4 linked regions of the Homo sapiens genome follow. The protein of the gene in region 1 purifies or fractionates together with the protein of each later gene. This does not show direct contact. Each region holds a gene or a part of one and is shown in the gene's direction. Other genes may lie near its edges. The genes, in order: HIP1R, PPM1B, PICALM and GAK.

Region 1 (7,034 bases):
AGCCCACCAGGTAGGAGCCAGTTACCCCTGGCATGGGAGAAGGCCAGTGTGGGCAGGCAGTGGCCCCACGAGGGAAGTGGAGAACACTCACAGGCACGCTTCCCACCTGGTGACGCTGGTGTGTTGATGAAGCACAAATGGGGTGTACCAGCATCTGCTGGAGAAATTCCCAGATCTGCAGAGGTGACAGGTACAGGGGCTTCCCTGCCTCAGGACCTGTAACAGCAAAGAAACACAAACGTCCTAAACATGCCTCAGCAGAGGCTGCGTCTCGCTGTCTGTGCAGAGCAGAGAACGGAGGGTGGTGGGAAGAGAGATGTGTCGAATCTGGGATGGCCGGGAAGATCTAGAAAACATTCTACTGTGTGAAATCAAGCAGATTGCCGAACAGCATGGACATACGTGTTGAAGATCCAAGCAGTACTTTATGTGTGCTGTAATTTTTTGCAAGGAAAACATACTTAGCATGACATGTAATTAGAGATTACTTTTTTAAAAAGGCAAGGGGCGGCACTTTGTGTCTTCCTTCTTGCCCCTCCCCCCCAGGCTCTCTCCTGTCACTGCAGAGATTTGCAAGTGGTCCCATCACAGGCAAGGCAGGAGCAGGACCTGAGGGGCCAGGGCACAGGTCTGTGCAGCGGGGGCTGTCTGGCCGCTCTCCCGTGCTGGCCAGCTGCCTGCTCTTTGTCATTCTCTCTGCCCCAGAGAAGCTGCCAGCCAAGGAGGAGGCAGCCTCATGTTTGTCCTTTGTCCCTCCCACTTGGTAGTTCTGATACAAGGCCCGATTGTCAGGGGCAGGGGAGACGGGCCCTGGGGGTGTCAGGGGCAGGGGAGACGGGCCCTGGGGGTGTCAGGGGCAGGGGAGACGGGCCCTGGGGGTGTCAGGGGCAGGGGAGACGGGCCCTGGGGGTGTCAGGGGCAGGGGAGACGGGCCCTGGGGGTGTCAGGGGCAGGGGAGACGGGCCCTGGGGGTGTCAGGGGCAGGGGAGACGGGCCCTGGGGGTGTCAGGGGCAGGGGAGACGGGCCCTGGGGGTGTCAGGGGCAGGGGAGACGGGCCCTGGGGGTGTCAGGGGCAGGGGAGACGGGCCCTGGGGGTGTCAGGGGCAGGGGAGATGGGCCCTGGGGGCAAGCGAGGTTTCAGGGTCACTTGGGGTGTGCAGAGCCAAGCTGTGACCCTAGTGCCGTGTTACTTGGCAGAAGCCCTGCCTGTTCCCACATCTGTAAAGTTAGGCATTTGGGGTGCTCCATCGTGAGCCTCCTTCCTGCTCTAACATTCAGCGTGGGTTTGAGGCCCGTGGGCATGGAGCTATCCGTCACCCTTGTCAGTCGGGCACCTCGTCCTGGGCTCCCAGGTGGAGGTCTCTGGAAGCCCTTGCTGAGCTGGGCTGGGAGCTCCTTTGCCCTGACCTTGTTGTTGCCGTTGACCTCCTTCATGGGAGCATCTGGTCTTGACCTGGGGCAGCCACCAGCACATGAGGCTCCCGTCTTGGAGGCAGGGGGCACACTGGTGTGTGGGAGCTGGCTTAGGGCCCTGCTTCACAGTTGGACCACCTTGGACAGGTTGCCCAGCTCCCAAGGGCTCACGTTCTTCCTCCTGCCCCTTTTGCACAGTTTTCCGACAGCTCAACACGGCCATCGCCGTATCCCAGATGTCCTCAGGCCAGTGCCGCCTGGCCCCCCTCATCCAGGTCATCCAGGACTGCAGCCACCTCTACCACTACACGGTCAAGCTCCTGTTCAAGCTACACTCTTGTGAGTGGCCCAGGGCAACCCCTGGCCCGGAAGGCTGTGTTTATATGGCTTAGACATTCACTGTCAAAAAGGAAAATCGAAAAATTAGAGGTTTATTCATTTAAAAATGGCAGTAATAAACCCACTGCCCATTAATAGAAATAACATATATTTTATGAAAAAAAAAAAAAAAAAACCCACTACTTTACCAAGCAAAAAACTTAGTGAGTGGCTTGGTTTTCATTTTTACGACTAAATGCCTGGCTCGGCCAAGACGGAGGCCCCAGCTGCTCCCAGGAATCTCCCGCCAGGCACCCTGGGGGTGCAAGCGCAAAAAGGCAAAAGGTGTCTGGGGTGTTAGGAGAGTTTTGATCTAACCAACCCCTTGAAAGGGTCTCGTCCCTCGACCGCACTTTGAGAACCACTGTGTTAGTGTCAGCCTGGGACCAACGTGTTTGGTGAAAGCGGCTTGCTAGTGCCTCCCGAAGCCAGGTGTGGGTTAGGTGAGATGTGGCCGCAGCGCCTTCCTTTCCATTCGCTGTTTCCTTCTCTAGCTCAGTCTGAACTGAGCCCTCCCACAGCGTCTCCCACAGGTCTCCCCATCCCGATGGGAGAGCGGGCCTGGCCCGGTCTCAGGTGATCTCTGATCTGTGAGTTTGTAGCATACGGAGGAACAAGGCAGGGCAGGTGAGCCCCTGAGCAGTGTGCAGAGAAGTCCTGTTACACTTGTGCCACCCTCCAGGTCTCCCTGCGGACACCCTGCAAGGCCACAGGGACCGGTTCCACGAGCAGTTTCACAGGTACTGCCTGGGACAGGGACAGGATTGAGGCCGGTGGGGGAGAGGCTCCGTGGCCCCTTCCTGAACCCGAACTTCCCACCATCTCTGCAGCCTCAGGAACTTCTTCCGCAGAGCCTCCGACATGCTGTACTTCAAGCGGCTCATCCAGATCCCCCGGCTGCCCGAGGTACCACCCCCAAGAGGGCCCCGAGGCCCTTTGAGGACCCCAGGCACCTGGCTGGGCCCCACACAGGCTATGGAGATGGCGGAAGGAGGGCTTGCTTAGGGGACAGCTGAGCAGGTCCCACCTGCCGCCCCTGCAGGGACCCCCTAACTTCCTGCGGGCCTCAGCCCTGGCTGAGCACATCAAGCCGGTGGTGGTGATCCCCGAGGAGGCCCCGGAAGATGAGGAGCCGGAGAATCTCATTGAGATCAGCACAGGGCCCCCCGCGGGGGAGCCAGTGGTGAGCCCCCTGCCCAGCCCGTGTCCCCCAGTCCTCCAGCTGCAGCATGAGGCCAACGGGAGTGTCGGGTGGCCAGCCCTCCCTTTGCCCACTGCCCGGCCTGGAGGGCACAGGTGAGTGGGGTCACCATGCTTTGCTGTGGCAGGTGGTGGCTGACCTCTTCGATCAGACGTTTGGACCCCCCAATGGGTCTGTGAAGGACGACAGGTGAGGGCTGGAGGAGCCGACTGGGCTGGGGGTGGTTGGAAACGGGCTCAGCTGAGCTGTGCTCTGGACAGTTCTGTCTGGAAAGGCCATAGGTGGGGAACATGAACCCGTGAGGTGCCCAAATCCTGAGTGGCCACTGAGGAGGAGACAGGTTCCTGTGCTGGGTCTGTTGACTGTTCTGGTTGACTTAACTTGAACCCCAGGACCTCTGTCCCCAGGGACCTCCAGATTGAGAGCTTGAAGAGAGAGGTGGAAATGCTCCGCTCTGAACTGGAGAAGATCAAGCTGGAGGTGCGGGGTGGGGATGGGTGGGGGCCAGGGCCCCTCACGGCCCAGGCAGGGCCCCACGTCACACCTCCTCCCGCAGGCCCAGCGGTACATCGCGCAGCTGAAGAGCCAGGTGAATGCACTGGAGGGTGAGCTGGAGGAGCAGCGGAAGCAGAAGCAGAAGGCCCTGGTGGATAATGAGCAGCTCCGCCACGAGCTGGCCCAGCTGAGGGCTGCCCAGCTGGAGGGCGAGCGGAGCCAGGGCCTGCGTGAGGAGGCTGAGAGTACGTGGGGCCTTGGCCACAGGGGTCCAAGGGTGTGTCCCCAGCCCCTGCCACCCCACACGGGGCATCACTGCCCCTCCTCTCGCCCCCAGGGAAGGCCAGTGCCACGGAGGCGCGCTACAACAAGCTGAAGGAAAAGCACAGTGAGCTCGTCCATGTGCACGCGGAGCTGCTCAGAAAGGTAGGTGCAGCCCATCCTCCATCCCAGCCGGTGGCAGGGCCTCTCGGGGATGGCAGCAGAGCATGAGCCCTTCCCCTGCCCATGCAGAACGCGGACACAGCCAAGCAGCTGACGGTGACGCAGCAAAGCCAGGAGGAGGTGGCGCGGGTGAAGGAGCAGCTGGCCTTCCAGGTGGAGCAGGTGAAGCGGGAGTCGGAGTTGAAGGTATGTCCCTTGTGGCACAGGGCCCTGCCCCGGCATCCCCAGCCCACTGCCCCAGTGACACGCTGTCCTGTCCCAGCTAGAGGAGAAGAGCGACCAGCTGGAGAAGCTCAAGAGGGAGCTGGAGGCCAAGGCCGGAGAGCTGGCCCGCGCGCAGGAGGCCCTGAGCCACACAGAGCAGGTGCATCTGGCTTTGATGACTGGAGGTGGGGTTCTGGGGCCAGTCCTGGGTGGAAGTCAGGTCCTCTTTCCCGTGAACAGGCCCCACCTGGGTGCCACTCGGTGATCCTGGGATGCAGCCCTGACCCAGACCCAGGGGCTACATGGGAGACAGGACCTACCGCTGGTCCTCAGGGAGCCCTGAGTCTAATGGAAGTGATCACTAACCCCCAGGGCCCAGTTTATAAGCGTGGGGGCAGGGTGGGTGGGGCCTGGGAGCTCTGTTCACATGCCTGGTGTCCATGTCTGTCCACAGAGCAAGTCGGAGCTGAGCTCACGGCTGGACACGCTGAGTGCGGAGAAGGATGCTCTGAGTGGAGCTGTGCGGCAGCGGGAGGCAGACCTGCTGGCGGCGCAGAGCCTGGTGCGCGAGACAGAGGCGGCGCTGAGCCGGGAGCAGCAGCGCAGCTCCCAGGAGCAGGGCGAGTTGCAGGGCCGGCTGGCAGAGAGGGTATGGCCTCCCCAGATGCAGCAGCACCACTGAGTTCACTGCCGTCTGGCAACCATCGATCTGTCTCCGTGATCTGCCTGTTCTAGAGATTTCATGTAAAGGGGATCATACACGATGCATCCTTTTGTGTCCGGCTTCTTCACTCAGCATCACGTTGTCAAGGGTCACCACATCATAGCCTGTGTCATTACCTCATTCCTTTTATGGCTGAGTCGTACTCTGCCGTGTGGACAGACCACATTGTGTTTATCTGTTCATCACTTGGTGGACATTGGGTTTGTTGCAACTTTCTGGCTGTTGTAAATAGTGCTGCTGTGGGCCTTTGAGCACAAGTTTCTGTGTAAACATCTGCCATCACTTATCTTGGATAGATAGCTGATGTGTGTGGAACACAGTAGAACTGCTGGGTCTCACCTCTGTTACCCTGTTGAGAAACTACCAGACTGTTTTCCAAAGTGGCTGCACCATTTTACACTCCCACCAGCAACGCATGAATGTTCCAGTTTCTCCACATCCTTGCCAATGCTTATTATTGTCTTCTTTTTATTTTAGCCATCCTAGTGGGTGTGGAGTGGTTTCTCACGGTCTTGATTTGTGTTTCCCTGATAGCAAAGGGTGCTACATATCTTTTCATGAGCTACCTGGCCATTTGTGTATCTTTGGAGAAATGTCTTTTAGGACCTTGAGCTCACGTTTTAATTGGGTTATCTTTTTATTCTTGAGCTGTGCACTGTGTGGGAAGCCTCTTTCTAGAAATCTCCACCCCCCTGACCAGTGAGGGTCTCAGCTGGGCTCCAACTGGTGGCCCATGGGTCATTCCAGGGCTGGGGCACATCCTTGGCCTTGGGGAGGATCTCTAACCTGTCCTCTTCACCCCCATTGCCAGGAGTCTCAGGAGCAGGGGCTGCGGCAGAGGCTGCTGGACGAGCAGTTCGCAGTGTTGCGGGGCGCTGCTGCCGAGGCCGCGGGCATCCTGCAGGATGCCGTGAGCAAGCTGGACGACCCCCTGCACCTGCGCTGTACCAGCTCCCCAGGTAGACAGTGGGGCCACACTCAGCCGCTCCCCTGCCTCCTTCCCATCCCCAGCCCTGAGCAGCGGGTGGCAGGGGCCTCAGTTCTCCTCGTGCTTGCAGACTACCTGGTGAGCAGGGCCCAGGAGGCCTTGGATGCCGTGAGCACCCTGGAGGAGGGCCACGCCCAGTACCTGACCTCCTTGGCAGGTGAGTGTAGCCAGGGCAGGGCGGAGGCGGGGGCTGTGTCCCAGTTCCAGCGCCCATGGCCACCTCTTGCCTTTTGGGAGGTTTACAGACAGCAGGGACCTCTCTGGGAAGCCAAGCAGATGCCCCCTGCCTGCTCCTTCCCAGGAACCCACCCCTGCCCTGTGGACAAATAGGCTTTTGCCTCTGGGGCCTGGGCCACCATATGTCTGCAGGTGGCAGAGCACTGAAGGGCCCGGGGCCACACACACTGTGGTGTGGTTCCCACTGCCTCCTGGACGTTGTCTTGCCGAGCCCTCCTTTCCTCTTCCTCCTCCTCCTGGGATAGCTGGCCACCGACGGTGGTCCCAGTGCTAGTGTCTCAGTGTCATCCTCCCCCAACCTTGGCCCCACCCACCCGCACAGACGCCTCCGCCCTGGTGGCAGCTCTGACCCGCTTCTCCCACCTGGCTGCGGATACCATCATCAATGGCGGTGCCACCTCGCACCTGGCTCCCACCGACCCTGCCGACCGTAAGTGGGTCCTGGGATGGCAGGTTCTGTCCACCTCACTGGCTTGTCTCCCCTGGGGGTCCTTATGGAGCCTGTCGGTGGGGGGGGCTCCACTCACGGTCCTTTCTCACCCCAGGCCTCATAGACACCTGCAGGGAGTGCGGGGCCCGGGCTCTGGAGCTCATGGGGCAGCTGCAGGACCAGCAGGCTCTGCGGCACATGCAGGCCAGCCTGGTGCGGACACCCCTGCAGGGCATCCTTCAGCTGGGCCAGGTGAGGCACAGCTGAGTGTGGGTTTGGGAGGCTTGGGCCTGCCTCTGACCTCTGCACCCACCTCTGGGTTGGCTGAACAGGTGTTTGTGCGTGGAGCCTGCAGCCTCAGGACACAGGGTGGGGACCATGCACCCTCCTCGATCCCTGTGGTCCCCAACCTCTTTCCCAGGCTGCCCGTGGGACGGGGGGGGACGGAGGCTACCCCTGTCTGACTCCCATCCTCACCAGGAACTGAAACCCAAGAGCCTAGATGTGCGGCAGGAGGAG
Region 2 (7,034 bases), on another chromosome or scaffold:
TTGGGGTTGCAGATTGCTGACTATAGTTTATCAGAAGGTGGGAGGAATTCTCTTAGTTTCCTTCTTCCTCATTCATAAAGAAACTGGGTAGTTTTTATTTTAGGAAGAGCTCTCTAGTTTGGTCAGCTGGCTGTTATGTGAACTTATCCAACTTGCTTAACCCCTCAAGGCACCAGTTTCTTTATTGGAAACTAAAGATAAAAACACCAACCATAGAGTTTTTTGTTTTTTGAGACAGAGTCTCGCACTGTCACCCAGGCTGGAATGCAGTGGCGCGATCTCGGCTCACTGCAAGCTTAGCTGCCCGGGTTCACACCATTCTTCTGCCTCAGCCTCCGAAGTAGCTGGGACTACAGATGCCCGCCACCATGCCTGGCTAATTTTTTGTATTTTTAGTAGAGATGGGGTTTCACTGTATTAGCTCAATCTCGTGACCTCGTGATCTGCCCGCCTCGGCCTCCCAAAGTGCTGGGATTACAGGCGTGAGCCACTGCGCCCGACCCCATAGAGTTTTTTTTTTTCTTAAATAAATTGTTACAAAAAAAGCTTATTGATGACACTTGTTAAAGATGGTAAGGCAGATATTTTTTCGGGGGTGGGGGGGGCATGGCAGTAGATATAGGGACCACTATGATAGAATCTTGCAGTGGCAGAAAGAAATTAAACTCAACTTGGGGTCCCATAAAGATAAGTGGAATTTATAACTAAGGAGCTGAGTGCTTGAAGGGAGTGTCAGTGGATGGAAAATTATTACTAAGAGGAAGCATCAACATAAGGGGTTTCTGGCTAAACTGACTTGATAGCATGGCAGGCCAGGCTAAAATATCCAGAGTGGTCCTATATCAAGTGTGTGGGGGTTTTCAGTAAACTGACTGAGCAGGATTCTCATTCAGCCTGGTTTCTACAAGGACAGAGAGGGAGCCTAAAGTTCTCCTAGTCAGAAAGAACTCAAGAGTCTTGCTGAAGGTTTGGTCCAAGCAAAGAGTTTTTGTCAAAATAAATGAGAATTATGTTTGTTAAGCACCTATTATGGTGCCTAGCACGTAAGTCCTCAGCAAACTGTAACTTTATATGAACTCTTAACTTCTGTAATAGCCACATTTTAATTTCTTAAAGGTGTGGTCAATTCAGTTTAACATGAGTTAATAATTTAATATTAATTTTCTTCTGCATAGTTAGTAACTTTCTAAAGTATATATTATATAGGAGAGATAACAAATATGTAATATGATCTCTAGGGCCTGTAGCAAATAGTTATTATTAATCAGGAGACAAAATTGTTAGCTAGGCAGCCACTACAAATCAATTTAAGTTGGTACTTAAAATGTAACTTCACAGTAGCTTACACCTATAATTCTTGGGATGCCGAGGCAGAAGGATTGCTTGAGACTAGGAGTTCAAGACCAGCCTCGGCATCATAGAGCTACAAAAAAGTTTTAAAGATTAGCTGAGCATGGTGGTGCACACCTGTAGTTCCAGCTACTTGAAGACTGAAGCAGGAGGATCACTTGAGTCCAGGAGTTTGGTGTTACAGTGAGCTATGATGGCACCACTGCACTCCAGCCTGGGCCACAGAGTAAGAACATGTCTTTAAGAAAAAAAAAAAAGTAACTTTTTATTTGTAAAGCAGTGTTCTTCAGGAGCATTATGTTTCTTCTGGGGTTTTAAATCATGTAATATGACATTAAATTTTGTGGTAAATACATTCTGGTGTACTTGGTAAATCTGTGTGTATGCTTTTAATGATGACTGGTCAGGTGGGAAAGGAATAATATTAAAATAAACAGGGAATAGTAGTTCACCTGAATTGATGAATTATATATTTAATGATTGCTTTCTACATACAGGTTTACTCAGTGTTTATTGAACATGTGTCACTGAGGATATAGCAGAAAAAGAAATCTCATAGAATTTGTATTCTAGTAAAAACCTATTTTTTTTTAATAGAGAAATAAAATAGAGTAAGTAGAGAGCAACAAGGAATATTGGTTAGAAATGTCTCTGTGAGGAAGGATGTTTGAGCAGCCGTGCTTGGAGAGAGAATATCTGAGGGAAGAACATTCCAGGCAATGACAACAGCAAAGACTAGGAGGGAATGTTCTTAGTGAGTGCAGCTGGGTTAGAATAAGCCAGTAGAAAACTAGAGGAAAATTAAGAGGTTTGTAGGAGGCATATCATGTGAGGACTTTGGACTTTGACTTGTGGGAATTCATTGGAAGATTTTGAGTACAAGAGTGATTTGTTCTTTTTTCCAAAGGATCTCTCTTAGTTGCTGTATGGAGAAGAGATTGTATAAAAGGGACAAGAGAAGCCAAAATACCGATTAGAAATTATGCATTAATGCATGGTAGTGGTAAATTGGACTAGAGTAGAGGGGTGTAAAAATGTCTGGTGACATTTTTGGTGTCATAGCTGAGGGGGTGCCACTGGCATCTAGTGAATGGAGGCCAGGGATGCTGCTTAATATTCCACAGCACACAGGACAGCCCCCACAACAAAAAAATTGTCTGGTGTAAAATGTCGGTGTTGTTGATGTTGAGAAGCCTTATACTATAAGACACAGATTTAAGGTAGAAAACTTACAGTCCTGCTTTCATGAAGCTTGCAGTCTATGACCCAATAAACATCGTGTATGTGGGAGTATATAGCATTATGGTATACAGTACATGTCATGCATATGGGAGTGTATTGCAGTGTACCTACTCAGACTTAGGTCAGAGAAGGATTTGAGAATGTGACATATAAAATTGAAACCTCAAGGATGAAAATAGGCATTCATAGCTGGGCGTGGTGGCTCAGGCCTCTAATCCCAGCATTTTGAGAGGCTGAGGTGGGTGGATCACGAGGTCAGGAATTCAAGACCAGCCTGGCCAACATGGTGAAACCCCATCTCTACTAAAATACAAAAATTAGCTGGGTGTGGTGGCACATGCCTGTAATCCCAGCTACTTGGGAGGCTGAGGCAGGAGAATCGCTTGAACCAGGGAGTCAGAGGTTGCAGTGAGCTGAGATAGTGCCACTGCACTCCAGTGTCTCAAAAAAAAAAAAAGGGACATTCACCATACAGAGGGGTTGGATTAGAGTGAAAAGTGTTCCCAAACCAACGAAAAGAGTATGTGAAGATCTAGAAGTAGAAGTCTTTGAATGGATCCTTTGGAGATGAGGGAGGCGGGCAGAGTTGAAAGAGTAGTGGAAGTCAACGTAAGGGTCTTGTGAGGCATGGTAAACAGTTGTTTTGAAAGTAAGGCCTGGGCTGGGTGTGGTGGCTCATGCCTGTAATCCCAGCACTTTGGGAGGCCGAGGTGGGTGGATCACCTGAGGTTGGGAGTTTGAGATCAGCCTGACCAACATGGAGAAACCCCATCTCTACTAAAAATACAAAATTAGCCAGGCATGGTAGCACATGCCTGTAATCCCAGCTACTCGGGAGGCTGAGGCAGGAGAATTGCTTGAACCCAGGAGGCAGAGGTTGCAGTGAGCCAAGATCACGCCATTGCACTCCAGCCTGGGCAACAAGAGTGAAACTCCGTCTCAAAAAAAAAAAAAAAGCTGTAGAATGTAACTATTTCAGGTAAGTATCAACTTGTAAAAATGATTTTTAATTTCTCCCCTTTTTCTTATAATTCTTATCTAGCTAAACTTTTATTATCCTTTAGTAATGGCATTCATAACTTTTATATTGTTTTTACTTAATATTAGATCAGAAGTATTTTTCCATATAGCTGTTACTGTATTCATCAAGACACCTATTTCGTAATTTTTAGTGATTATAAACCATTTCACTCAATGGCTACACCAAAGTTTTTAACTGTCCTCTTGTTGGTGAACATTTAGTTTGTTCCAGTTTTTGCTTTTTATGAATAATGCTGGAATGAACATACATATGCAAATAACTGTTTTTTCTTTTTTCCCCCTGCATAGCAATGTTTCAGTCAATAAGTAGCTTTTTGTATTACTTCTTAAAAATTTTTTGTGTGTTGATGGTAATTTTTTTTAATATATTTTAAAATAGGTACTACCAAATAGTATCTCTTGTTTCACTTCTTGGTGAGTACTGGCTTATCACATTAATTTAGGAACTTTTTTTAAAAAACCTACAGAGATTATGGAGAAGTCTGGCGAGGAAGGAATGCCTGATCTTGCCCATGTCATGCGCATCTTGTCTGCAGAAAATATCCCAAATTTGCCTCCTGGGGGAGGTCTTGCTGGCAAGTAAGTAGAACAAAAAGCTAATTTTGAGTTCGTTCATAATTAGTAATTAAATAATTTGGGGTAAAAAAACTTAAATCAGAAGTACATCAATTATCTAGAGGTGAAATGGGTTAGTGTTTCTTATACTAGAGAAGAACTCTTAAAACTTCAACCAAAAACGATTTTTTAAAAGGAATTATCTATCATACTCTTTGAGTATGAAGGTCCTTCTTTCCTTGCTAAGGAGTACAAATGGATTGTGCAAAATCAGATTCTGAGAGTAAAGTGTAGAAGGTATGTTCTTGACAAGTATAGAGTGTACCAGTTACTTTTTTAGTGTGGTCAGGATGAAATATTGAGATATTCACAAGCTTAAAATTCTGTGTAATTTAATAAAACTAAAGCATGTTTTTTTTTTTTAGGCGTAATGTTATTGAAGCTGTTTATAGTAGACTGAATCCACATAGAGAAAGTGATGGGGTAAGTTTTATTTTATTTCATAAGCATTTGAAGTAATTTCACAATATAAATACTAAATATGAATACATTCACATTAACGAAGTCTATAATAAATTATAGTCTGTAGTAAATTACTACTGCTTTTCATTTTAAAGTGTCAGTTAAAGTTTAAGAAAATGTATTGAAATGAAGGTAGAGATAAAATTTTGTTTTGTAGATAGTTTTGTTGTCACTTTCTGGGCATCAAATGACCTTTTTTGTTTGGGCTGTCTTTATTTCTTCTCTATATGTCTGCTTTTCCTTCTTCTCCTTTAAACCTTAATTTTGAGGCAAGAATGCTCTTTTAAATATCTCAATTTCTCCTCCAGCAGGCTGCTGCCATCACCAGAAGTTAGTGATAGTGAGTGAGTTGTTATTTTAATAACTAGACCTTTCAGTACCCCTGTATGCCCACTTGGAATACCCGAGGATAGTTTTTTTCTAATATTATTGTTGTATTATGGGTACATGAGTGTTGAGCTGAGATAACCATTTCTGTTGTACCTTGCTGTACTTCATCAGAGCAAGACTCTATGCCCTTACCTTTTATTTTGCTTTTCTTCGAAATGTCAGTGAGCTGCCAGCTGCCCCTCTATATTGTTTTGTTTTGTTTTAGTACTATTACCAGGAGACAGAAGTGTCCTTTTTTTTTTTTTAAATCCAAGTTAGTTCAAATAAGTATTTTTCTCTTGGGTTTTCAAGTTTTTATGTCTAAAAATAAATTATTTAATTTTTAATATATATGCTTCAAAGCTTTAAGGGAACCAAACAGAAATGAAACTGATTGGGAGGAAGAGTCCACCTCCAGTCTCCAGCTCCTCTTGGCAGATTGAGAGAGAGAGTATCCATTGGCTAGAAATCATATGTCATCTCAATTGCATTATTTGCTAGGATTCATTGTTGCACAGCAATATAATATGATTTCTTTTCCTTAACAGTAAAAGTTATCCTGGCAAAAAGGAAAATTTAATAATTAATATAATTTTAGTGAGTCATATAAAAGTGATGCTATATATTGCTAATTATAATTTATATCTTGGTCTAGAGCAGTGATTCTGAGTCTTTTTTTGTGGCAGGTTCCTCAGAGTATTAAGAATTGTACCCAAGGCCGGGCACGGTGGCTCATGCCTGTAATCCCAGCAGTTTGGGAGGCCGAGGCGGGCGGATCACCTGAGGTTGGGAGTTCGAGACCAGCCTGACCAACATGGAGAAACCCCGTCTCTACTAAACATACGATATTAACTGGGCATGGTGGCGCATGTCTGTAATCCCAGCTACTCGGGAGGCTGAGGCAGGAGAATCGCTTGAACCCGGGAGGCGGAGGTTGTGGTGAGCCGAGATCATGCCATTGCACTCCACCCTGGGCAACAAGAGCGAAACTCCGTCTCAAAAAAAAAAAAAAATTGACCCAAAGCTGAGAAAATTAATTTAAAAATCCAAATATTTTATGTGATCCATCAGAGAACCCTCAAAGAAATGAGTATAGGATGTTGACATATGACTAAAAGGATGGTGGTAATTTGGAAGGTTGAGAGAAGAGAATCTTAACTCTTCAGCTAGATTATAGATTCTTCAGGGCATCCACTACCTTGATTAGAGGAAATAAGCCCTCAGAAGACAGTTATTGATTCATTATTAGCCATAGAAGTACTCCCATTTCCTCAGGTGTTTCAAAGTGTCAACCCTCATGTGTAATCTTTAAAAATACATATATATATATATATATACCTTGCTGGATTTTGGGGTCCTTCATAGTCTATTTTTACTCCAAACAAGGTTTTCTGTTTAACATATACCAAGGATAACTTTTAAATTTTTTAAAAAGAAAAAATGATTACACATAGTAGCTACATAAACAGGGAATAAATAGGCAACGGAACTATGAAACTGGGGGGAAATGCTCAATATATAAACCTTACCTTAAATAGATTATTATTTGGCTATAGAAATGGGATATATGTACTTAATTACCTTTATACATAAATGTTCTATCAACATCAGCAGATCAAACACTGACAGTGTGTTGTATAGTGGATTCACAGAGGGAGAAGACTAGAAAACGTAAGACGTGACCCCACCTGTGTGTCTAGTGCAGCTTACACTGTAGTTATAAACACACCTTAAATGATCAAAATATTTCGTATAGCTTGGTAACAAATAAATGACAAAATCCAGAATGTGACCATTGCCATGTGACTTGGACAGTGATTGCTGTAAAAGTTCAGCTGCTTAAGCAGGGGGAAAGTCAGCTTCTTAGAGAAAAGATAGTATTTGAAGAATGATTTGAATGGTAGAAATGACATGAGGATGATGACCTTTCAAGTGGACTAGAGAGGCAAGGACAA
Region 3 (7,164 bases), on another chromosome or scaffold:
CTCACGCCTGTAATCCCAGCACTTTGGGAGGCTGAGGTGGGCGCATCACAAGGACAGGAGATCGAGACCATCCTGGCTAACACAGTGAAACCCCGTCTCTACTAAAAGTACAAAAAATTAGCCAGGCGTGGTGGCAGGCGCCTGTAGTCCCAGCTACTCAGGAGGCTGAGGCAGGAGAATGGCGTGAACCCAGGAGGTGGAGCTTGCAGTGAGCCGAGATCATGCCACTGCACTTTAGCCTGGGCAAGAGAGCAAGACTGCCTCAAAAAAAAAAAAAAAAAAATTTCCAAGACTTGTCTGTTTTCTTGTATTGGATGGGCACGATACTTGGACATGATACTTTTTGAAATTATTGTTATGAGCATTACATTTTTAAAATGTAGTGTTTTTAGCACATAGGAGGCAATAAAAAAAACCTGCTCCTTCTCCGAACACTCCCTGCCTCTCTACAACATACCTTTTAGTTGGAAGAGCCTAGGAAATACCTAGGAAATGTGTTATTCAAGTTTTTTCCTTCTGTTTTTGGTCTGCTCCTTTACAATCAAAGCAAAGAGGCCTTCAAGTTGAGAACTAACTAGTTCCCAAAGGACTGATGGGTTCACTGTAAATAGTGTTTGGCACTTAGAACCTTTATGCCTGACACACAGTTCAACACATATTTTTTGAAAGAGTAAATTAATTAACAAGGTACTGAATAAGGATGATGCTCCAACCAGATAATTATGGGATGGACATGCTTTATTTATTTTTAGAAACAGTGTCTTGCTCTGTCATCCAGGCTGGAATGCGGTGGTAGGATCATAATTCACTGCAGGCTTAAACTCCTGGGCTCAAGGGATCCTCCTGCTTCAGCCTCCCAAGTAGCTATGACTATAGGCTTATGCCTCCATGCCCAGTAGACATGCTAAATGTGTGAAAAAGTGGGCAGATTTTATCAAATGAGAGGTTTGGAGTGATGGTGTGTCCGAATGCGTGATTTCAAAGCGTTCTCATTCATTCGTTCAATCACCATCTACTGTGTATCTACCTTGCATCAACCATAATACTAGCATGGATGTATCTCTGCACCCCCATGTTAGTGCAATTAGTCAATCACAATAATAATTAGAGAACAGAAGGATATATGAGTAACAAAAGGAAATCAGTAACTGCTTATTGGTATGTGAAACAGCATGACATCCAAGTATGTCAAGTAGTGTGATACTGTCTGGAGTGCATTTAAAGGAATCAGAAGAGATGAGGCTCAACAAGTAGTAGGTAGGTAGGGGAATTTAGAGGAATGGGAAGAGACAAGGCTCAACAGGTTTAGGTGGCCATGTGAGTTGGCACATGTGGAACTTCAGGTAAGATATTTCTTAAATAGACTGAAGAAACTGACACAGAGAAAACTTAAGTATATAAGATAAAGTAGGTCAGTAATGCCTATTCTTAGTTCTAATTCCCCATCTTCTTCTAAATTGGTCCATGTATTTCATTTCACAATTACACATAAACCTCTACAATGGTCACTGATTATTTACATACTTAGAAACTTCTAAAATGAGGCCAGATCATGAAGAACCATGTATGCCAGGTTGAGAGTTCTTAATTTCATCCTTTAGGGTAGCGATGGGGGAGTTACTGGAAGATTTTAATGCAAAGAAAAGACAATCACATTTTGGTTTCAGAAGGATCTGAATTGGAGAGTCAGGGTATAAAAGACAGAGAATCAGCTAAGAAGTTACTAAAACAGTCTAGTATAACAGAGATCATAAAGGCTGGAACTAAGGCAACAGAAGTGGGGTTAGAGATGGGATGTGTTTGAGAGATAAAAGTAGATTAGGCTTGATGAGGGAAATAAGACAGAAGGAGAACTCAGAATCACAGCTTTCTGAGCGGAGCTTCTGGACATGTGGTGAGGCCATTAACGGATATAGGGAACAGTATGGATTAAAGATGTAGGATGCTGGGCAAGGGCAAGAGAAGTTCAGTATTGGCCATGGTGAGTTGGCATCTGTGGAACTTCAGGTAGAGATATTTCCTGAATAGACCAAGGAAACTGACACAGAAAACTTAAGCATATAAGACAACATAGGTCAGTAATGTCTACCCTTAGAACAATTCCCCATCTTCTTTTAAATTTCTCCATATATTTCAGTTCACAACCACACATAAACCTCTTCAATGATTACTGATTATTTACATAGTTAGAAATTCTACTATGTATACTTGGAAAAAAATAAAATATTTCTAACAGCAGCTTGTTTGTTAATAGGGTAAACATGTCAACAATTATTGTCACAAAAGTGGTCTGAAAGAACCTCTTTGGTAAAAGTAATAGTGTAATACTTTCCTGTTATGTACTTAGGAATGACTGGCATTTTCCCTAAGGATAAAATATTCAGCTGTTGATAGCTAGACCATGTTAGTGTTGACCTCAGATTGGGGTTTACCAATGCAGAGGCTCAGGCCAATCAGTAACTTATACAGTGGAACCCATAGACCAGTAGCAATGATGGCTGATAACATGTCTTGAGAATTTGGTAATTCCACTGCCCAGTGGACGTGGGGCAGCAAACTGGGCACCAAACCACAGATGGATTGCAGTACACTGAAGGAATTCATTATAGTTTTGTGAAATTGGAGGCTGGCTTGACAAAGATGAAGCCTGCTGGGATTAAAAACTTGTGTGTTCTTGGCAAGAGCATGTTGCTGCAGAATTTCACCAGCCATAGTGGGGAAAAAAGAGGGGTGAGGGGGCGTGGGGAAAATGGGAGACCACAAAATTCCTGATATGATACATAAAATGTTAAATATCTATCAGCTTTGCATCCTTTGAGAGTCACCAGATTGAAGCACAGTATTTTGGATTTGGCTGGCAGATGGTGTACACAGACTTTCTGAGAATGTTAGCATTTCATTTGAAACTAGCAAGATTACATGTGACTATCATGGTAACTTAGCACTCACATATTTTTCAACTTATCCCTAACCCTGGGTTGAATGTAGAGGCTCTAATAACATATAAAAGGCTTTGTTAATGTATGGTCTGGGTCTCATTGAATAGTATTTCAGGATGTAATACTTCTTTTAAAATGTCCACAGGGCAGTGTCAACGTCTTTCCATGGAAATCTGGCTCACCCAATAAGAGAAAAGAGGCCAAAGGTAAGAAAGACTAAACCAGGGGAGATGGCAGGCAGTGATGTCTGGACTGTTTGAATGGGACTTCTCCATTTACCGCCCCTCTCACTTCCTTCTATGGTCTGGACCTTTAATCACCACAGCAGTCAGCCATGTAGGGTCAAGCTAATCGCTGTTGACATCATCCTACTACTTCCCTTTTCAAATTCCAGTGAAGCTATGTGTTTCCTGTCCTATTCCACACCCTAGAGAATGAATACCGGCCAGCTAGTATCTAAATTTAGAATGGCAGCAACGTGTCGGGTTTTCGGAGTAGAGATAAACAAAACCAGGTGACATTTCCAAGCCTCTCAAGGAAAGGGGGGAAAAAACCTTTCTGGGGTAAGTAAATAAGGAGAGCTTCAATAGTTCCATGGTAGAGAGAGGCCTGCTGGAAGGTTCAGAAAATAGGCCGTTTGGAACCTTCTCCTTTAAGCCAGGAGGGCGGCTTTGGGAGGCGTCTTGAAATACATTCTTGACTCTGCTGGGAAAGCTCGGGGAGCCAGAGGCCTAATACCCCCCACTTCAGGGGAAGCTGTGAAGGCAGCTGCACCTCCTTTGTCAAGCTGTTGGTTTCAACCACAGACACGAGGACACACTTGAGGTGGGGGGATAAGGGGAGAAGCCTGCCGCCCCGCCCCACCCCCGCCAGCACACCGCCCTCGCCATTCCTCTCCCGCCCCGCCCCGCCCGGCGTCTGTGACCCCGCGGGCCGAGCCTCAGGCGACCTGTTGGCAGGGAGAGTCACGTGATGCGCCGGCTGTGCACTCCCCTCGGGCGGGCCTCCTGTTGCGCCCGCCTGGCGAGTTCCATCACGTAACGCGCGGGCGCCGCCCAGCTCTTCCCTCGCTGAGCGAGGGAGGGCGGGCGTCGAAGAGGAAAGGGAAGGGGAAAGGGGCGGGAGAAGGGAGGAGGGGCGGTGTCCGAGTCACGTGACCCGGGGCAGCCCGGAAAGCTCCGAGGAGGAGCCTGGCGCCGCCATTTTCCTGCAGCTGCCTGTTCCTCTTACCCTGCCCGGCTCCAGCTGACCCGGGAAGGGGTGGGCTGAACTGAGGCGGGGGCAAGGGAGTGCCCGACATCTTGTCCGACTCCGCGGGTGACACGAGCCGGTTCTCTCTGGACTGGTGGCAGCGCGCGGCCCCGAACCGCGCCCCAGGCCGGCAGGCGGGGAAGGAGCCGGTGGGGGTAGGGGGTGCGGTGGGGGGTGGGGACCCTCCGGCTCTTGGGGGTCCCAGTCCCCGCCGGCTGCTGAGCGGGTGGGGTGGTGGAGGAGCTGCAGAGATGTCCGGCCAGAGCCTGACGGACCGAATCACTGCCGCCCAGCACAGTGTCACCGGCTCTGCCGTATCCAAGACAGTATGCAAGGCCACGACCCACGAGATCATGGGGCCCAAGAAAAAGCACCTGGACTGTGAGTGAAGCCGACCGCGGCCCCCGCTCCCCGGCGCCCGCGCGACCCGCGCGCGTCCTTCTCTCTCTCTCTTGTCTTTCACCCTTCTACTGCCTCTTCCCTCCCTGCGTCTTCTCTGGCACGGCCGGTCCTGTGCCCGTTGAGCTGTGTTCTTTTGCTTCCATCACACCTGCCTTCACGGCCTCCGCTCCCCGTCTCAAAATCTGACAAGCCACTCCCCTCCCTATTCCTAGGGGACCCTCGTCTCCCTGCCCGGTGCGCTACCACACCCCATCATACCCAACCAACTTGCTTCCCCACCTGGCTTCTCACCCCCTACCCGTCTCCACTGCAGCCTTCTGCTCTTCCTTCCCACCCGTCCGGTGCCGCCTCGTCGCCCTCGTCTGAGCGTCTCCAAGCCCCATTGTTTCTTCATCAGCCTCCTTCGGGTTTCAGTAAACGCCTGGTTCCTTGCATCCAGATCCTTGTTATCCCTCCGGGCTGCCTCCCTGGAAGGGATCCCCCACTTCCTTTGCTCCACTAGCTGCTTCGCCCATCCCTTCCTGGCTTTCTGTTCCACCTTCCCTCCTGCTTTTGGGTTACCTTTTCATCGCCTCTATAGTAGCTTCAGTGTAGTTTCTTCGACTCATTTTAAATACCATACCCAGTTACCCGACTTTTATTTCAGATTACCTTCTTTGTGGGAGTGAAAGTAAAAGGATTCAATTTGGTGTAGGGAAAGCTTTCTGGAAAGTTGGGATTTTTATTTGCCTCTGGTGGAATTTAATCGTTGTGTTGTCCATACTTTTGACTGGGGTGAGTTTGTGACTGTCAGCTCTGCCCCCCAGCTTTTCACATGGGGATATGGAAAAAGGCATTTTGCTGATACTCTTATCAGTTCCTGGAACTGTTAATTCTGGCGGCTTGAATTCAGAAGCTTGAGTGTTAAGCGTAGACTGTTGGAATTCCAAATGGATTAATAAATTTACTTACAAATAACATACATCCCTTAAAAAAATTGGCAAAATGATGTTTGATGATGCTTGAGTTTGGATGTTTTAATTATGCCAGTTACCTTTTGAGGAACTAGCTTTAGCTTCTCTTACACGACATAGTATTCGTCCATTCGCTAACGTAGATACAATTAGTAGAGCTAACTCCTCGTAACTTTTTTCTAACCTGGAAGTCACCTGTAATACCCTCCTTTTTCTTTGCGCTCTTTTACCCCAGGGTACAAAGCTCATTGGATCACTCAAGCCAATGGAGCTTAGACCTGAAACTTTTCAGGGAAAAATAGGGCAATAGTCACGATAAGTAAGTTCCCTTTTTAAATGACTGGACACATTAGTCTGACTGACTTTCATCATACATGAAAGTTACTTTGTTTTACTGTTTGAAGCAAGAGTGAGCATGCCCTGAAAGATAATTCACTGTCTGGAAGCCTGTTTTGATTTCTCATTTGGACTTTGGCCGTAAAGTTTGCACTTTAAAAAAAATGTACGAAATGTAGATTCTTCCAAGTTACTGTGCTCATGAATGCTGTTAGAACAAGTTTTTGCTACACAGAAGCCTATTATTCTTTGTGATTGTTCCTCCACTGTGGAAAAAAGTTTTAAATAAAAAAGCATTAGTGCTTGATTCTTTCAGATATGCATGCAGGCTGCTTTTAAACTCTCAGTCCTTGCTTGTCTTAGAGAATGGAGAATATGTTTAAATGGTGACACTCTTATGAACAGAAAACTTTTTAAAATGCATCGTAAAGCCATATGTGATTTTTTGATTATCTGATACGTGTAGTAGACGTTTCTGCTATTTACGGCTCTTCAAATACTACTTGGTTTGCCCTACCAAATCTTACAGTTTGTCCTGACACTGTGTTAATTCTTTTGTTAGTTGCTTTTGGTTTTTTTTTGTTTTTTTTTTTTGTATGGGAGTATGAAGAAACTAGTTGTGACTGTGTGAACTATTTTCCTCTTTCCTCATTCAAAATAAGAATCGATAAGGCTTTTAAAAGTTTTTTTTGTAAAGGTTTGTGTCTTATTTCAAATGTAGCAGTGGTTCTTTTAAAGCATTGTCAAAAAGAGGAGAAAATAGGTAGGGTTAGAAGAGTGCTATTTGCATGTTGTTTCATAAATGTTATTAGCTATTTCTCTTGTTATAGCCACTACTGCAGATAGATGGTAACTGGGATTAGGTTTGGAGGATAATCTTGCATTTGTCGTTCTTTTTCTCTACCACTTCTGTGTTTACAAGCTCCCACGTTTTTGGAACTTGAATATACCTGGTAGTATTTGATTTAAAAATATATGTGTCGTTAATGTGCTTCTGTTTCTTTTCAATGAGGTTTTAAAATACAGGGATACTATTTTCCCTACATTGTTGATTAAAATGTCCTGTAATCAGTTCTCACTAATAAAATACCTTTATCTTAGGTAAAGTCTGACCAGTGAGTGGTTTACTAAACAAATACCTTCCTTGCACACACTAACATGCTTTGAGAAAATTAAAAAGTCTTCTACGGACAGTTCATGGTGTTGACATCATGAACTTTAGGCTTTAATACAGAAACCTGTCATTTCAAGTAATTTTTTGTCTTTTAGGAATTTTTCTTTAT
Region 4 (3,574 bases), on another chromosome or scaffold:
CCCCCGTGGACAAGCCCCGGGTCTGCCTTGGCTCCTGGGGGTGACGTGGGGACACTGCCCCAACCCCCGTGGACAAGCCCTGGGTCTGCCTTGGCTCCTGGGGGTGGGGTGCTGCCTCCACAGCTGCCCTGTCCTGGTGTCTGCCCTCCATCCAGAGTGTTCCCGTCGCCCCAGCACCTGGCCTGTGCTCCAGCCCCTGGAGACCTTCACACGTGTGGGTGGAGCCGGCACCTCTGGACGGCCTCGAGTGATCGGTGTTCTATTTTGCAAGCGCATGTTTTCCAATATACGTGGTGCTCTGCGTTATAGAAACAGTAGTTGCCCCTCATGGACAACCAGATGCCGAGTTTCCGATCTCCATCTCCACAGGCTCACCAGCTGGATTCCCTCCTGGGGGCTTCATTCCCAAAACGGCCACCACGCCCAAAGGCAGCAGCTCCTGGCAGACAAGTCGGCCGCCAGCCCAGGGCGCCTCATGGCCCCCTCAGGCCAAGCCGCCCCCCAAAGCCTGCACACAGCCAAGGCCTAACTATGCCTCGAACTTCAGTGTGATCGGGGCGCGGGAGGAGCGGGGGGTCCGCGCACCCAGCTTTGGTGAGTCCCCCACTCTCTGTTGCTGTGGAGTTTGCAGAGACCTCCCTGAATTGGCTAAAGGTAGAACCTATGTTGTTTTCTTCATCTCAGAGCCCAGTCCTGGGACAGGCACGGCCAAGCCACTCAGAGAACGACGCGGTTTCCGATGTGTGTTCACTGGTCTCTCTCTGGGTCAGGCCTCTGGGTCCCTCTTGTTCCAGTGACACCTTCTTGACCTGTTTTTAACAAATGGCCTTTGCAACCCTGTCTTGTCTTCCCTCTTCTTTACTCTGGAGGCATCAGGATGGTAGCCCTGTTCCCGGGGGCAGCAGGTGGAATTGGGCCTGTGTGTCTCTGCAGAAAGTTTCTGTTCTTAACTGGGCTTTGTGGCTCACGCCTATAATCCCAGCACTTTGGGAGGCTGAGGCGGACAGATCGCTGGAGCCCAGGAGTTCAAGACCAGCTTGGGCAACAGTGATACCTCCTCTCTACAAAAAATGTAAAAATTAGCCAGGCATGGTGGCGCATGCCTGTGGTCCCAGCTACTTGGGAGGCTGAGGCAAGAGGATCGCTTGAGGCCGGGAGGCAAAGGCTGCAGAGAGCTGAGATCACGCCATTGCACTCTGGCCTGGGTGACAGAGTGGAGACCCTGTCTCAAACAAAAAAAAGTTTCTGTTCTTTTCTAGCTCAAAAGCCAAAAGTCTCTGAGAACGACTTTGAAGATCTGTTGTCCAATCAAGGCTTCTCCTCCAGGTCTGACAAGAAAGGGCCAAAGACCATTGCAGAGATGAGGAAGCAGGACCTGGCTAAAGACACGGACCCACTCAAGCTGAAGGTGGGTGGGTGGGCAGCTCTTCCTGGGAGCCCAGAGGCCTCAACCCATGGCCCCTGGAGCATCTGCTGTGCCTTATGGAGCCGGCGTCTCCAGACAGCAACCTTTCACCCCTGGAGCATCTGCTGTACCACATGGAGCCGGCGTCTCCAGACAGGGACCTGTCACTGCCGATGGGCCTGGCAGCCCTCAAGGACAGGGTGGCCTGAGGCCAGGGGGGCAGGGCAGAGTCAGGCCCCAGGCTGTGCTGCTCCCCACGTGCCCAGATGGCTCAGCGCTGGTGGGGGTGGGGTGGGCGGGCGTTACAGGAGTGAGTGCCCCGGGGTGTTTGCAGAGACTGTTGAGGGCAGGCGTCTCTTGGGGGCTGCTCTGGGTACTGAGCCTCCCAACCCAGGACGCTCACTGGGGGGTGAGGATGCAGCGGTCAGGCTGTCACTGTGCCGGCCCTGAGACACGCCCTGCTCTGTGGCTTGGCCGATGCCCAGCTCTGCAGGCCACATGCGCCTGTGACCTTGGGGTCCTTTCACAGGCACCAGGGACCATCCCCTTCTCCCTCGGAGTCTGGGGCCTGGGATGGGCCAAGGGGTTGCACCACCAGAACCAGGGTTTGTGTCCTCGGTGAACATCTGGCTGAGACGAGGGTCCCTCTGGCCCCAGGCCCTGAAACATGAAGACCACCTGGCCCTGTGTCGTCCGGAGTGGGCTCTATATAGTTGAGGGCAGGGCGTGCAGTGGGACAGTGTCTGTGAGCCGGGCTGAGCCCACCCCACGTGACCAGGCACTTCCTCAGCGTCGTGCCTCAGTTTCCGCGGTGCAGAGGAGGAGGGCAGGCAGGTGCCCAGGGCTCGGCAAGCTCCGTGTCTCCCGCAGCTCCTGGACTGGATTGAGGGCAAGGAGCGGAACATCCGGGCCCTGCTGTCCACGCTGCACACAGTGCTGTGGGACGGGGAGAGCCGCTGGACGCCCGTGGGCATGGCCGACCTGGTGGCTCCGGAGCAAGTGAAGAAGCACTATCGCCGCGCGGTGCTGGCTGTGCACCCCGACAAGGTGAGCAGAGCTGCCAGGCGGCCGCTTGAGGCCTTCAGGGGCGGGGCGGGGGGGGGGTCCTGCCCCGCCCGCCCCCGCATGCTTATAAGAGGCGCTTACACCGCCTGTCACCCATAGGCTGCGGGGCAGCCGTACGAGCAGCACGCCAAGATGATCTTCATGGAGCTGAATGACGCCTGGTCGGAGTTTGAGAACCAGGGCTCCCGGCCCCTCTTCTGAGGCCGCAGTGGTGGTGGCTGCGCACACAGCTCCACAGGTTGGGAGCCGTCGTGGGACCTGGGTCCCCACCGTGAGGACCCCGTGGGCGACAGCAGGTGTGGCCAGGGTGGGGCTCCGAGCCCCGGGTCACCGCCCGCCCAGCGTTCCAGGCACATGAAGAGAAAGCATTCCAAAGCCTCTGATTGTTGTTTCCTTTTTCTCCTCCCGAAGGAACAGCTGATTCATGCTCCTCCCGCAATTGTCACGTCTGTGATTTATTTGGTGTTTCGGGCGTGGCCTCTGGAGCCCCGGCACGTGGTGGGCCACGCTGCTGGCGCTCATGGGCCCTGGTGTTTGCACCGCACTTTGTAATCAGTCCCGTGGTTGTCTGTACAGAATTAAACTATTTTCCGATGACTGCTGTGTCTCCAGTGTGGATCCACTCGCCCAGGTGCCGTTCACCAGCTGGGGCACAAGGCTGTGCTTCCTCAGCAACCTTGCCGTGGTTGGATTGTTGCAGGGGCCGAGTGGAGAGGAGAAGCGGGTCCCGGGGCTGCAGCGGCTCTGGGCAGCTCTTCAGGGGGCCATAGAGCCCAGCCAGGGCAAGGCCAAGGGCGGGGGCCCCTGCAGTCCCCAGACCCCCTTCCTCCCCTCGGCCCCGGGACTCCTCTCTCCTCTCCACTTGGCCCCTGCCCCTGGGCCCTGGACCTAGGAGCAAGGGTGGGCTCCACACTGCCCCTGTGCCATCCCCGCAGGGCCAAGGTGGCCTCCGGGCTGTCGGGCTGGTGGAGGACCAGGGGCCCCTGGAAGGAGAAGGTGACCATGGTGAGCCCCCACCCCACAGCAGACTCGAGGAGGCCCTGAATCATAGCCCTGAACTCACCGCCAGGCTCTTCCTGTTTTCAGAGAATAATGACTGCACGT

The links.
Region 2: the proteins of HIP1R (region 1) and PPM1B purify together in Homo sapiens (affinity purification with mass spectrometry; 2 studies listed by BioGRID and IntAct, with this or other methods). This does not show direct contact.
Region 3: the proteins of HIP1R (region 1) and PICALM fractionate together in Homo sapiens (co-fractionation; 3 studies listed by BioGRID and IntAct, with this or other methods). This does not show direct contact.
Region 4: the proteins of HIP1R (region 1) and GAK purify together in Homo sapiens (affinity purification with mass spectrometry; 3 studies listed by BioGRID and IntAct, with this or other methods). This does not show direct contact.

The regions. Positions count from the first base shown.
Region 1 is NC_000012.12:122,852,431-122,859,464, forward strand, and holds part of HIP1R (huntingtin-interacting protein 1-related protein), read left to right. Parts: intron 1-1,612; coding exon 1,613-1,753; intron 1,754-2,474; coding exon 2,475-2,532; intron 2,533-2,622; coding exon 2,623-2,698; intron 2,699-2,834; coding exon 2,835-2,975; intron 2,976-3,120; coding exon 3,121-3,182; intron 3,183-3,400; coding exon 3,401-3,473; intron 3,474-3,549; coding exon 3,550-3,733; intron 3,734-3,825; coding exon 3,826-3,914; intron 3,915-4,001; coding exon 4,002-4,118; intron 4,119-4,194; coding exon 4,195-4,296; intron 4,297-4,590; coding exon 4,591-4,785; coding exon of another isoform or gene 4,786-4,818; exon of another isoform or gene 4,819-5,587; intron 5,588-5,671; coding exon 5,672-5,819; intron 5,820-5,918; coding exon 5,919-6,005; intron 6,006-6,407; coding exon 6,408-6,515; intron 6,516-6,630; coding exon 6,631-6,767; intron 6,768-6,995; coding exon 6,996-7,034. UniProt on the Homo sapiens protein: Component of clathrin-coated pits and vesicles, that may link the endocytic machinery to the actin cytoskeleton. Binds 3-phosphoinositides (via ENTH domain).
Region 2 is NC_000002.12:44,213,867-44,220,900, forward strand, and holds part of PPM1B (protein phosphatase 1B), read left to right. Parts: intron 1-4,100; coding exon 4,101-4,212; intron 4,213-4,613; coding exon 4,614-4,671; intron 4,672-7,034.
Region 3 is NC_000011.10:86,066,058-86,073,221, reverse strand, and holds the start of PICALM (phosphatidylinositol-binding clathrin assembly protein), read left to right. Parts: upstream 1-4,137; 5' UTR 4,138-4,441; coding exon 4,442-4,571; intron 4,572-7,164. UniProt on the Homo sapiens protein: Cytoplasmic adapter protein that plays a critical role in clathrin-mediated endocytosis which is important in processes such as internalization of cell receptors, synaptic transmission or removal of apoptotic cells.
Region 4 is NC_000004.12:848,770-852,343, reverse strand, and holds the end of GAK (cyclin-G-associated kinase), read left to right. Parts: intron 1-369; coding exon 370-594; coding exon of another isoform or gene 595-797; exon of another isoform or gene 798-1,035; intron 1,036-1,259; coding exon 1,260-1,408; intron 1,409-2,275; coding exon 2,276-2,452; intron 2,453-2,569; coding exon 2,570-2,671; 3' UTR 2,672-3,067; downstream 3,068-3,574. UniProt on the Homo sapiens protein: Associates with cyclin G and CDK5. Seems to act as an auxilin homolog that is involved in the uncoating of clathrin-coated vesicles by Hsc70 in non-neuronal cells. Expression oscillates slightly during the cell cycle, peaking at G1.